Regions from separate parts of the Homo sapiens genome. Here all the other regions are linked to region 1. The links come from fine-mapping of genetic effects on gene expression. A gene starts in region 1. Each other region holds a variant in brackets. All regions are shown on one strand. Distances are from middle to middle. Region 1 holds the start of PCDHA13 (protocadherin alpha 13). Region 2 holds the start of LOC124901090 (a long non-coding RNA gene). Region 3 has its middle 98 kb from the start of ARAP3.

What was found. PIP is the estimated chance that this variant, and not a neighbour inherited with it, causes the effect. A credible set is the group of variants that fine-mapping cannot tell apart.
Region 2: its variant is the best candidate, but not a certain one, in a credible set for the expression of PCDHA13 in lung (TOPMed, PIP 0.56).
Region 3: its variant is the best candidate, but not a certain one, in a credible set for the expression of PCDHA13 in prefrontal cortex (BrainSeq, PIP 0.79).

What each region holds. Positions count from the first base shown.
Region 1 is chr5:140,880,179-140,884,419 of GRCh38, forward strand. PCDHA13 (protocadherin alpha 13) reads left to right here and starts at 1,946. Exons shown (of 4, transcript NM_018904.3): 1 at 1,946-4,241. The coding sequence starts at 2,091. All of the region lies in intron 1 of PCDHA1 (protocadherin alpha 1), which reads left to right. The region is part of intron 1 of PCDHA2 (protocadherin alpha 2); the gene reads left to right. The region is part of intron 1 of PCDHA3 (protocadherin alpha 3); the gene reads left to right. It also overlaps PCDHA4, PCDHA5, PCDHA6, PCDHA7, PCDHA8 and PCDHA9, and 4 more genes. RefSeq lists an enhancer at 3,581-4,165.
Region 2 is chr5:141,026,124-141,030,364 of GRCh38, forward strand. It overlaps LOC124901090 (a long non-coding RNA gene), which reads right to left and starts at 421. Exons shown (of 2, transcript XR_007058970.1): 1 at 321-421. The variant G/A (reference allele first, on the strand shown) is at 2,465.
Region 3 is chr5:141,777,870-141,782,110 of GRCh38, forward strand. No RefSeq gene overlaps it. Among named protein-coding and RNA genes, the nearest start is that of ARAP3, 98 kb to the left of the region's middle. The variant T/C (reference allele first, on the strand shown) is at 1,665.

The DNA of each region.
Region 1 (4,241 bases):
GGGAAAAAGATAAACAGAAGAGGTTTTCCACCAGAAGTAGAACATTTAAATTAGTGTATGTGCGTGTGTGTATGTATACATATTTTAGTTAAAGAAGTTTGACTATCTTCATAGTGTGAGTGAAAGAAACAAGTAAAAAATAAGATACTAAAAATAAGACAGGCAGCAGGTGAATTTAGATGAAAACCATGAGAGAATAGAAAATAATTTTTAAGAGCATATGGTTGACCTTAAAAGCGGGAACAGTTTTTCCTTACAACTAGTAGAAAATGAAAACAGATAATATAAGGAAAAATGACACAAGAAGAGAGCAATTGAATTTCTGTTTGGTCACATCTCTCAATGTGTGAATCATCTGAAAGTGAACTGATGGAAATGAGGTTGAGAATTTGAGAAGAGAGGAAAGAGAATATGGAAGAATCTCTGTAAGCAAGAGGGAGGAGTTAATTATCAATTCACTTGAGAGCCCAACTGAGGTAAAGGTGAGAGTAAATTTGAAGAGAATAGTCATGGTTAAGTGACAATGTTGAGCAGCTTAATAGGAAGCATAGAGAAAATGGATTGTCAGTGTAACTGCGTGTTGGAGGCTAAAAAGAATGTTAGAGGAGTAATATAAATAGGTGAATGACTCTAGAGTGTCTGGAAGGGCATATTTTAAATGGTTGACTATGTAGTCTAATTATGTGAAGAGGTAAATAAAGAAATGTAGGGCCAGATAGAAAGAATTAGAAGAGAAATACTATGTTAGTAAAAGTAATGGAGCAGGAGAGGATGATGAGGGTAAGAGAATACCAAATACTCTGCCTAAATTTTCAGAGGAGAGCAGAGCTATGGAAATAAACCCAACAGTCATTTCCTATAGAGTTGTGCACAGAACAGGCCAGATAATTATTGGAGCTATGATATATTTTTCATTACACCATTTGGCCTGGGATTTTGTGGCTTGGTAGAGATAGTTATAACAATAGATAAAAGTAAGATCCTCTTCCTCTTTTCCTTGCTAAAGATATGTTAACATCTTTGTCTAGCTGTTGTTTCTTGGAAAATTAAAGTCAATTTAAATGACGGCAAGGTTTTACTCAGTGATGATGAAGTAAGATGGAGAGAGAAAATGGAAACTTTAACCTCCTGGTTAAATTCTATTTAACCAGGACGCCGATTCGGGCTACAATGCGTGGCTTTCGTATGAATTGCAGCCGGCGGCGGTAAGTTAAATTCTATTAAATCAATAGGATATTAGTTCCAGGCATATTTTATAAAAACAGAATCCAAAACCTTAGAGCATTGTTGTGGCTAAATTATTGTGTTTATGCACATACACACACTCACATACAAAATCCCACACATATTGACTGAACACTTTCTTTTGAATATAAATATCTTATCTACATCTCAAGTCACATTGAGGGAAATTTATTAATATGATGTGCTTATTCAAAATCTGATATATCAGTTACCAATATTTTTCACCTTCACCGATTTTATTCTTATGTGATTGTTATGTTTCCTTTTGGAGTCAATGGCTGTTGTGTGAGGAGGTCTTGAAAAATATTACAGGAAGAGGACAGTACCACAAAAACCTACATGACTATGCAGAACTACCGATCAATTGTCCCAAAACGAGTGTCGAATATTCTTTGTCTTAAAGTTCTGCATGGAATTCTTACACATGGAAAAATAAATTTGTGGCAAAATGAAACTCATCAACCAATTGTCAGCTAATATAAAATGTTGAGCAGAATGCAGTGATTTGCTGTTTCTGGGAAGGTAAACATTTAATCTTCAATTACATATTTGCAGTGAAAATGTCAGGAAATGCAAGGGGCAAAAAAATACTACATCAATGGAAAATATGAAGACTGAGTCATACTTACACTTACACGTTCATGCGCATGGTGTCGCTCTTCACTGAGAACGTTTCCGCGAAGAAAGCCGCCGTTTCTTTCTTCCTGCAGAAAATATAGCAGAAAGCGGAATACCTCTTGCGAATCCTTCCGCACTAGGAAGCCATAAAAATTGGGCCTTGAGAGACAGTTTGAGGTAAGGCGTTGTATATATTGCAGATAGCTCTGAGGTTTTTGGAGTGTACCATGCTGTCTTCCTGGCAAGGAGGCCCAAGACCGCGGCAACTACTGCTCTGGCTTCTGATCCTCGCAGCCTGGGAGACGGGTAGTGGCCAGCTCCACTACTCCGTCCCCGAGGAAGCAAAACACGGCACCTTCGTGGGCCGCATCGCTCAGGACCTGGGGCTGGAGCTGGCGGAGCTGGTGCCGCGCCTGTTCCGGGTGGCGTCCAAAAGACACGGGGACCTTCTGGAGGTAAATCTGCAGAATGGCATTTTGTTTGTGAATTCTCGGATCGACCGCGAGGAGCTGTGTGGGCGGAGCGCGGAGTGCAGCATCCACCTGGAGGTGATCGTGGACAGGCCTCTGCAGGTTTTCCATGTGGAGGTGAAGGTGAGGGACATTAACGACAACCCGCCCATATTCCCTGAAAGCAAGAAACGAATAATCATTGCAGAATCTAGACCTCCGGAAACTCGATTTCCACTAGATGGCGCATCCGATGCAGATATTGGAGTAAACTCGGCATTGACCTACCGACTGGATCCCAACGATTATTTCACTTTGGACGCACAAAACAGTCTTGAGCAAATGTCTTCATTATCACTTGTACTGAGGAAAACACTGGACAGAGAGGAAATTCAGGAACATAGTTTATTACTGACAGCCAGTGATGGAGGTAAACCCGAGCTGACTGGCACAGTTCAGCTGCTCATCACGATTCTGGACGTGAATGACAACGCCCCGGAATTTTACCAATCCGTTTATAAAGTGACGGTGTTAGAGAACGCCTTCAATGGAACATTAGTGATCAAGCTAAATGCCACAGATCCTGATGATGGTACAAATGGAGATATAGTTTACTCATTTAGAAGGCCTGTATGGCCTGCAGTGGTATATGCATTTACCATAAATCCGAACAATGGAGAAATTAGGACAAAAGGCAAACTAGATTTCGAAGAAAAGAAATTATATGAAATATCCGTGGAGGCAGTTGACAAAGGAAATATTCCAATGGCGGGTCATTGTACCCTTTTGGTGGAAGTACTAGATGTAAATGATAACGCCCCAGAGGTTACCATCACTTCTTTGTCACTCCCCATCAGAGAAGACACTCAGCCTAGCGCCATTATTGCCCTAATCAGTGTGTCCGATCGTGACTCTGGCTCAAATGGACAGGTCACCTGCACCTTGACGCCGCATGTCCCCTTCAAGCTGGTGTCCACCTACAAGAACTACTACTCATTAGTGCTGGACAGCGCCCTGGACCGCGAGAGCGTATCAGCCTATGAACTGGTGGTGACCGCGCGGGACGGGGGCTCGCCTTCGCTGTGGGCCACGGCCAGCGTGTCGGTGGGGGTGGCCGACGTGAACGACAACGCGCCGGCGTTCGCGCAGCCCGAGTACACGGTGTTCGTGAAGGAAAACAATCCGCCGGGCTGCCACATCTTCACGGTGTCTGCTCAGGACGCGGACGCACAGGAGAACGCGCTGGTCTCCTACTCGCTGGTGGAGCGGCGGGTGGGCGAGCGTGCGCTGTCGAGCTACGTGTCGGTGCACGCGGAGAGCGGCAAGGTGTACGCGCTGCAGCCGTTGGACCACGAGGAGCTGGAGCTGTTGCAGTTCCAGGTGAGCGCGCGCGACTCTGGCGTGCCGCCTCTGGGCAGCAACGTGACGCTGCAGGTGTTCGTGCTGGACGAGAACGACAACGCTCCGGCGCTGCTGACGCCCGGGGCTGGCAGCGCGGGAGGCACAGTGAGCGAGCTGATGCCGCGGTCGGTGGGTGCAGGCCACGTGGTGGCGAAGGTGCGCGCGGTGGACGCCGATTCGGGCTACAATGCGTGGCTTTCGTATGAATTGCAGCTGGCGGCGGTCGGCGCGCGCATCCCGTTCCGCGTGGGGCTGTACACTGGCGAGATCAGCACGACGCGCCCTCTGGACGAGGTGGACGCGCCGCACCACCGCCTTCTGGTGCTGGTGAAGGACCACGGTGAGCCCGCGCTGACGGCCACGGCAACGGTGCTGTTGTCGCTGGTGGAGAGCGGCCAAGCGCCACAGGCTTCGTCGAGGGCGTCGGCAGGCGCTGTGGGTCCAGAAGCGGCGCTGGTGGATGTCAATGTTTACTTGATCATTGCCATCTGCGCGGTGTCCAGCCTGTTGGTGCTCACGTTGCTGCTG
Region 2 (4,241 bases), 150 kb after region 1:
AATGCCTGGGCTCTACTACAAGCCAAATAAATCAGAATCTCTGGGGTTGTGGCCTGGGCATTGTTTTGAAAAACTCCCCAGGTTAGAATCACTCGATGCATAGCTAGGATTGAGAACCACTGCTCTAGAAAATGATAATTTTAGATGATTAATTAGGGTAAATTGGCATCAGGAGAATTGACTTTAGGTGAATTGGTATCAAGGTGAACTAAATTCCTGTCATCATCTTAGCATGTTATTTAACAAAAGCTTGTTCATCCCTCTAGGTCCATATATCATGTCCTTCTAGGAACCTAATCCATTTTGTAATCATTACTTACAAGGTCCCACTTTGAATTTGGCATCTGCCTCTGGCTGCCTTCTTTGCATAAGTGAGGTCTCTTCTGAGAGCAGTTTGCTTGTCTTGCATGTTAGCCAACGCCTGGAATTGAAGATGTGAACATGCTTATCTTGAAGGTTAAAGTTGAAGCGCCCTGGTTTCGAATCAGCAATGACTCGGAAGTCCCTTTTAATGCTTTCAGGCAGTTTTATTTTTCACTTGCATAGATGAGGAAATTGTAGGTAAGAATAATTTGATGAGTTTTAGGTGTTACGGACATAACCAAAGGCAAATTCAAGTATCTTAACCCTTAATAAATTAAGTTGGTTTAAGAAAAGATATTATGGTGAAAGTCTCCAATTTTGGTAAGTGTTGTTTATAAAAACAGGTAGACAAACTTACATCTCCAGACTTCTTTCAAAACAAAATGTCACCTTAGAGCACTTCTTTCTTCTTCTGTGCAGCTAAAGTGCTATCTGTCTCCTCATCAGTTCCAAATGACCAATGTGGCAGAGAAGAATGGGCTGTTATTTGATGCCAAATTGAATCTGCAGAGACTCAGTGAACTAGGACCAGAGAATTATTACAGTGACTCAATATGTGTGTGTCTATTTGTGATTTTTAACATTGATAGTAGCAAGGCTTACTTTTAATTTCCTCTTAAATATTAGGCTGTTTCAAAATGTCCACAGTTACTGATTAGGCCATTGTGTTTCTGATCTTGGTGATAAAAAGTAGCGAATTTTTAAACTTAAAAAAAAAATTCATTTGGGAGGTTCTAACTGAACTTTCCATATTTCAAGAGTACCCATCCTAGCCACAGGAAAACATGAATATTCTTCAGCTCAGAGCTAAATTTTAGTCATGCTTATCGCCCTTTGGTTTTCTCAGGCCACTGCCCCATGTGAGAGCTAGCAGCATCAGCAGCACAACTATCATCCCAATATTCTGATCATCTGAGAAGCAAGGGCTTCAGGAATGGATTTGTTTTCAAAAAGCGTACAAAGCCAGAAACTTGATTCCTCCATTTATGGATAATATCCAGGACAGATGGAAAGAAACACACCAGACAGCAAATGCCCTTGTCTCTGGTCTCCATATCTGCATTGGCACAGGTCAAACACAGTCTCTATGTGGCCCTGGGCTTAAAGGAAAACATCAGTTTTAGCTAAGCGAGAGCCCCAGAATTCAGTATATTTGTGACACGATCCAAATCCTTCACCCCCAACTTATAGCCTTACCATCACTATGTGACCATCAACATTAAGGTCGTGGTTTATGCCAGTTTCCAAAAGTTCAGAACTCCCCGACCATCTCCTTTCACTCAGAGAGTAAATCCCATGTTGTTCTGTAGATTTTTTTTACGCTATTTCTATCTTTCCTTAACTCCTGAAGCCTTTGTATTATGCCCTGTGGTCAGTCATTAGCAAAATTCCCTATGTTTGCAGCCTCTTTTCTGAAAATTTGCTGTCTTTGTTTAAACCGAACACTGGTTCTCCCTAAGGAGATTATTTCCATTATTCTTCTCAAAATGTAGCTGTGATTTTTCCTTAGCCTTTAATCCCACTGGGCCTAGAAGTAAGAAATTATCTTCCCTGCTCCTTCCAGATCATCCTACCACTTGCCACTTCTGTATCACCCTACCTTGCCCCCCACCTTGCCACTTCCAGATCTCCCTATCTCCCTTCTGCCTAACAACATTCAGCTTAGAATCTCATGCGGTCAAATTTTAACACCCACTACCTCTCCTTGTAGCAGTCATCTCCTGATCCCATGTCACTCACTGTCATTTCTTGATGATTTTACCTGCTGGCTCAATATCTTCTCTAGTACTATTCTAAACATAATACTTGGTGATTTCAATATCCACATAGATGTTTCTTCTAACAGCCTACCTTCTCCATTCCTTGACCTTCTCTCCTTGAATTACCCAGTGCTCTACTGACCTCAGCTACCTACTCCCATCTAAGGTCAAATATCTTTATGTTATCAGTGACTGCAACACTTTCCTAATTTCTAAGTATCAATTTCAAGCATCAAACTTTCTAATTGCCCCCTACAATTTTCCCAGCTTACTCCCTCTAAGACCCGAAAATAATGCCAACCATTCCAATACATAAAATCTATTAGTCCTACCATCTTTTC[G/A]TCATCCCTACCACCTTCATGTCCTAATTCTTTTTATCCAGTGAAAAGTCTGGGGTCAATCATTATAATCACTGCATTTTATATACCTTAAAATCCATGATCCTCCCTCACTTTAATATACTTGCTTATAAAAATCCGAAGCTTCATAAATCAAAAACTAGATTTATAAATTCAAAGACTTGTAAACCTAAAACTTTGCCCACATCAGGCTTGTATTCACATATGTTAATGTAGCAGGAGAAAAACATCACAATATTGCTAGCTGTTCTTATTTTATATTTGTGATTACAAATCTCAAGTGGCCCTTAACGTTGTCTGGCAATTATATAGTATTTTCCTAGCCCATTTACTCTCTCGTCTGCATCCATCCTACCTTGACCAATTCCTACATTCTGATGTCTTTCCAACTTTCAGCACTCCTCCCACTCCTCCATCAGTAGAGCATCTAACTTCAAATAAATTTGATAAATGAAGTGATCAGAGGAGCTGCCCATAAGTCTTATCTCATTGACCTACTGACCTGCCTTTGTTCTCTTGTACTGTATGTTATGTTCTGTGACTACTAGATGAACTCCCTGTGTCATGTACTCAAGGACATTGCTTTCTACCACCACTGTATTATCAATTTTCTCTTTCCTACTGGATCTTTCCCATCACCATACAAGCATGTTGTTATTTCTCACATCTTAAAGTAACTATTTATTGACCTCGTTTTTCCTTCCAGCTACTGCACATTTCTCTCTTCTTTATACAAAAAATTCCTTGAAAGTGTTCCCTATACTGACTATCTCCAATTTCTCCTCTAATTTCTGTTTTATAGTTTAAAAATTATTACATTATATTATATTATATTATGTTATATTATATTATATTATATTATATTATATTATATTATATTATATTTTTGAGACAGAGTCTTGCTCTGTTGCCCAGGCTGGAGTGCAGTGGTGTGATCTTGGCTTACTGCAACTTCTACCTCTCGGGTTCAAGTGATTCTTATGCCTCAGCCTCCCAGGTAGCTGGGATTACGGGTGCACGCCACCATGTCCGGCTTATTTTCGTATTTTTAGTAGAGATGAGGTTTCACCATGTTGGCCAAGCTGGTCTTGAACTCCTGGCCTCAAGTGATCCACCTGCCTGAGCCTCCTAAATTGCTGGGATTACAGGGGTGAGCCACTGCAACCGGCCCAAGTTTTAAGATAATTATATTTAAACAATTAGTACTCATAGCTACTTGGCTGTAGGTTCAAATGACTTCATTTGAAACCACTATTCTTCATTTTAGAAATTAGTACTTGGCCTGAAAAGATCATTGCAATGCTCAATTTTATTTATTTTAAAAAGTTCAAACCTATAGAAAAGTCAACAGAATAGTAAAATAAACCTCTATACTCCTTTCATCAAGATTCACCATTTAACATTGGCCACATTTACTTCTCTCTTTCTCTCTCCCTTAACCTTTCCTTCCCTGTCTCCCTTTCTGTCCTTCACTCTCTTCCTTCCTCTCTGTGTAATTTTTGGTGTATCATTTCAAAGTATGTTTTAGACATGACACATCACTGCTAAATAAAGCAGCATACACTTCCTAAGAATACGACATTCTCCTACATAATCATGATGGCATTTTCTTTTTTATTTATGTTTCATTTATTTATTTATTTAAGACAGAGTCTCACTCTGTCGCCCAGGCTGGAGTGCAGTGGCGTGATCTCAGCTCACTGCAACCTCAGCTTCCCAGGTTCAAGTAATTCTCCTGCCTCAGCCTCCCAAGTAGCTG
Region 3 (4,241 bases), 900 kb after region 1:
GAAGCACTGGACTATTGTATAACACTTTCCTATGAAGCCCCGTGCAGCATCAAAAACCTCAACACAGCACTCTAGGCCATCACTACTAATAGAGGCTACTTACACAGAGTGCTGGGCTGGGGCTCCTCAGAGAGGGCTGCACAGACCTAGGTCTGGAATTTGAGAAGCTAAGACCCTGACAAAGACCTAAATTTGGGCCAACAGCCAAGTGTGCCAGGAAAGAGAGCTCTGGACCGAGTCTGGAGATCAGGCCTCAAGCCCCTGCTCAGCCCCCTGCTCAGTGGCAGCACAACCTTAGGAGCCTCTTCTCCCTTCCAGGTCTCAGTTTCCCCATCTGTGCATTGAAGAAAATTTCTCTGTGCAGCGGCCCATTCTCCTGCAGCCTCCAAGCCAGGGTGAAGCAGATGCACGTGCAGTCCCCGGGGAAAACCCCTATAAATCTGCCTTCCCACAGGGGAGTGGAGCAGGGAGCACAGCAGTAACAGAGATGTTGCCCAGAGCTTGCAAGAGGCACACATGACTCAGCCCTGCAAGGAGGCATCCATCACCCTGGGCAGCCAGCGAGGCGGCAGGAGAACCACGGGAGGGACCGTGTGGGAGTGAGGGAGTGAGGGAAGGAGGAGGCGGGGCTCTTAGCCCCGTTTGCTCTACCACTTTCCCAGACCCGGGACCCATTAACAGACAAGAGGACTCTAAGCGCAGAGACAGGGGAAACCTGAGATAAAGAGTTGGGATGAGGGGCAAGGAGTCCAATTCTATGAAACCATTCAGGATGCAAAAAATGTGGCCCTGAACTACTTACAAATCTCAGGATTTGTAAGTAGTTCCTCAGATTACTTGTGAAGTTCAAGCCCATGCCCCTTCCCTCAGGTTAGCCTAGGGTGGGAGAGGCCCCCGTGACCCCTCCTCCCTAAGCAGGGAGCCCCCACTCCCTAGTGACTTCCCTCCAGCCAGCTTCCCTACAGACTCCCCTGGGATCGCACAAATCCTGAGACTACTCACAAGAATGCCTCCTCCACATCCACACTCATCTGGCTTCTTCTCAGCTCACATGTCACAGCCCAAATGTCACTTTACCAGAAAGGCCTTCCCTGATGAGCCATCTATCCCCCACCTGCCCGTGACCTTTTCATTGTCCTCATAGCTCAGATCACTCTTTGGAATCCCCCACTGATTTGCTTCCGGGCCTATGGTCATCTCCAGCATCCTCCTGGGATGGAAGCTCCCTGAGGGCAGGGGCCTCCCTGTCGTATTCTATCACCTGCCCGTAGAACAGCATTTGGCACAGAGTGGGTGCTCCACAGAGCTCCCACTTACCATGTGCCAAGAACTATTTGAGTTGATTTGCATACATTATTTTATCATGTCCCAACAATCTTGGAAATAGAAGGTATGATTATTTATCATTTTTCAGATGGAAACACTGAAGACAGAAAGATAAGTGATTTGCTAAAGGTCACACAACCAGGAAGTGGTAGAGTCCCTGTTTGGGCCTAAATCTGTCTGACCTCAAAGCTCAGAACATTTGGAATGTAGGAGCAAAGGGGCTATTAGAAATCTTGCAGAGGGCCGAGGGGGTAGTGTTGACCCAAACCTCCCAAGTTACTGCTAAGGAAGCATCAGCCCAGAACCAGGAGGTCCCTTCTAAAGCTGTTGTTACTTAA[T/C]TTAGGATTTCTAAAGGGAAGTCCTGCTTTAACCAGCTGCTGTCCAACTTCTGGAATTTGTTACCCCCAAGGGGTCTTCACAAGCTGAAAATAGAATGGAGTTCAGAAAGGGTTGCACAAAATTAATGGATGACAGGACCCCAGTGGTAATTAAAGGAAGCAAGAGATGCTGGGGGTTTGGGCCTAGACGTTTGAGGTCAGCATCATGCTGGGGACTGCCACGGTCTCCCCCCAAATGGGTCCCAGGTGCCCCAGCAGAGTGAGCCAAGCCGCAGGCTGGGAAGCAGGGGGGAGGTGAATGATGTCAACGTCCCCACCCACTCTCTGGCAGGATTTGGCCGCCTGGCTGCTTCCTCCTCACATCCCCAGGCCCAGCTGGGCTGTCAGGGGTTGCTGACTCACTCACCTGGCCAAGATGGCCAATTTGCACATGTTCTCAATATTTTCTTTGCTAATTTTTAAAAATAAAATGCTATTTTTGCAAAGTCTTCATTACTTCCTAATTATTCATACTCCTTCCACTTTTTTGTCTTGTTAAATACAAAACTCAATAATCAGCTCACTTTTCTAAGATTACTTGTGAAGTTCAAGCCCATGCCCCTTCCCTCAGGTTAGCCTAGGGTGGGAGAGGCCCCCATCACCCCTCCTCCCGAAGCATGGAGCCCCCACTCCCTAGTGACTTCCCTCCCGCCAGCTTCCCTACAGACTCCCCTGAGATTGCACTGCTTTATTCGACTGTCCTGGCATCCCCACCTCTCCTTATCTTCCCCTCTCCATCCAGAGCTTCTCCCTCTGTGCTCTCTTCACCCACCCCTCCCTTCTCCCTCCCTTCCTTCCTTCTATCAGTCTATCCACCCTCCTGTGGCCTCCCCCTCTACCTAACCAAATTATTCATCCTCCTCCTCCACCGGCCCCCTCCTTCCCCAGACTCCTTTCCTCCCCTATCCTTTACCCTCCCCTCCCCTCCCCTCCCCAACGCAGCACCTTCACACCTGGGAGCTACCCTCAGAGCCTGAAGGGTCTCTCTCACCCTACCCACCTCCTCCTGAAATATCATCCGCAGGCCTCAGTGATGCTGCACTGCTGGCTGCTCCAGCAGGTGGGTGCTGCGGTTCTCTCCGCTGATAATTCATTCCCCCTAGCCCTGCATAATCCTCCTTAAATCAGTTAATCCCTGAAAACTCACTTCTTCAGGCCCAAGAGCAGCAAGGAGGAGCGGGACGGGTCCCTAGGACTATAAATCCCTAGAGTACTGGGGCCAGGATGCAGTCCCTCTTTCAGCCACGCTGGAGTGTCAGGGATGAGACTAGCAGCTCCCCGCAGATCCTGCTGACAGGCCAACTTTATGGAAGCCTTGGCAGGGACAGCAGCCCCCTCTTATCCCAGGTAGTGGAGTCTTGTGGCCACCAAGGGGTAGGTGGATATGATGGGGGAGTTGCTGCTGGACCTGAGCCCCTTCTTCCAAATAACAGGCACCCCTGGGCTCTCTGGCAGGGGCCTGATTTCTGCCTGGGCTTTTGCTGCTGCAGTTTCCAATGCTCAGACACCCGCATGTGTGTCCACGTGGCCATGTTCACATGGCACATGCATCCACCTCACACATCTCTACACACTGTATACATCAGAACAGGGCTTCTCAAATTTGGGTGCACCAGAATCACCTAGAAATCCTATTTGAGTGCTAAGCCCCACTTCTTGGGTTTCTGATTCAGTAGGTTTGGGGAGGGGCCTGAAAATGTGCATTTCAAGCACATCAAGTGCTGCTGATGCTGCTGGCCCGAGTACTACACTCTGAGAACCACTGCTCTAGAGATGCCCACATGTGCATACACACAAGAGTACACGTTCATGCACAGAAGGTTTTGCAAAATGAGGAGTGAAGCTACTAGGAAGAACTGAAGCTGTGAGCTCAGTTTGGGGATTACTCAGCCTAAGAACACAAACTCGCAATATCATTTTCTCTCTCGGTCTCTGATTCTTGCTACTTCTCCACGGTCTCTGCATTTCTGTGTATCTCTTTCTCGGTCCCCCCGTCGCCCAACTCCCTGCAGCCTCCAGGTGTCCTCCCAGCCCCTTTGCACACATGAGCTCATCCATCTCCATCACCCAGCAAGTGAGTGGCAGGCAGGTGAGAGAGGAAGAATACAGAAGAACAGGCTCAGCTCCCCGCCAACAGGGAGCTCGCTCACCAAGAGAACACAGCCAATTATTCCCCCCGTTCTGGGGGATAATCATTAATGCCACAGGAAATTCTAAACAAATGATTAAATCATTACTGGGGAAGACGCAGCAAGCCTGTGCCACCATTAAGCCTCCCTTGTACTGTTGGTTTTCAGAGAGCTTACCTGGGAAGTGGGGAAGAAAGGGGCAGATGGGCATCATCACAGCCCTGCAGCATCACCAGCAGCCAGTCTGCCAGGGGCCAGCCCTAGAACCACCTTCCCCTCTCTAAGCTGCACACCCAGCAACTGTCTGAGAGCCCCTCTTGCCCTACCCATGATGAAGACTCTGTTCCTGCAGCCCTTCATGATCTCATGCCTCCTGATGAATCCATTTATTCAGTTGACAAACATTTAC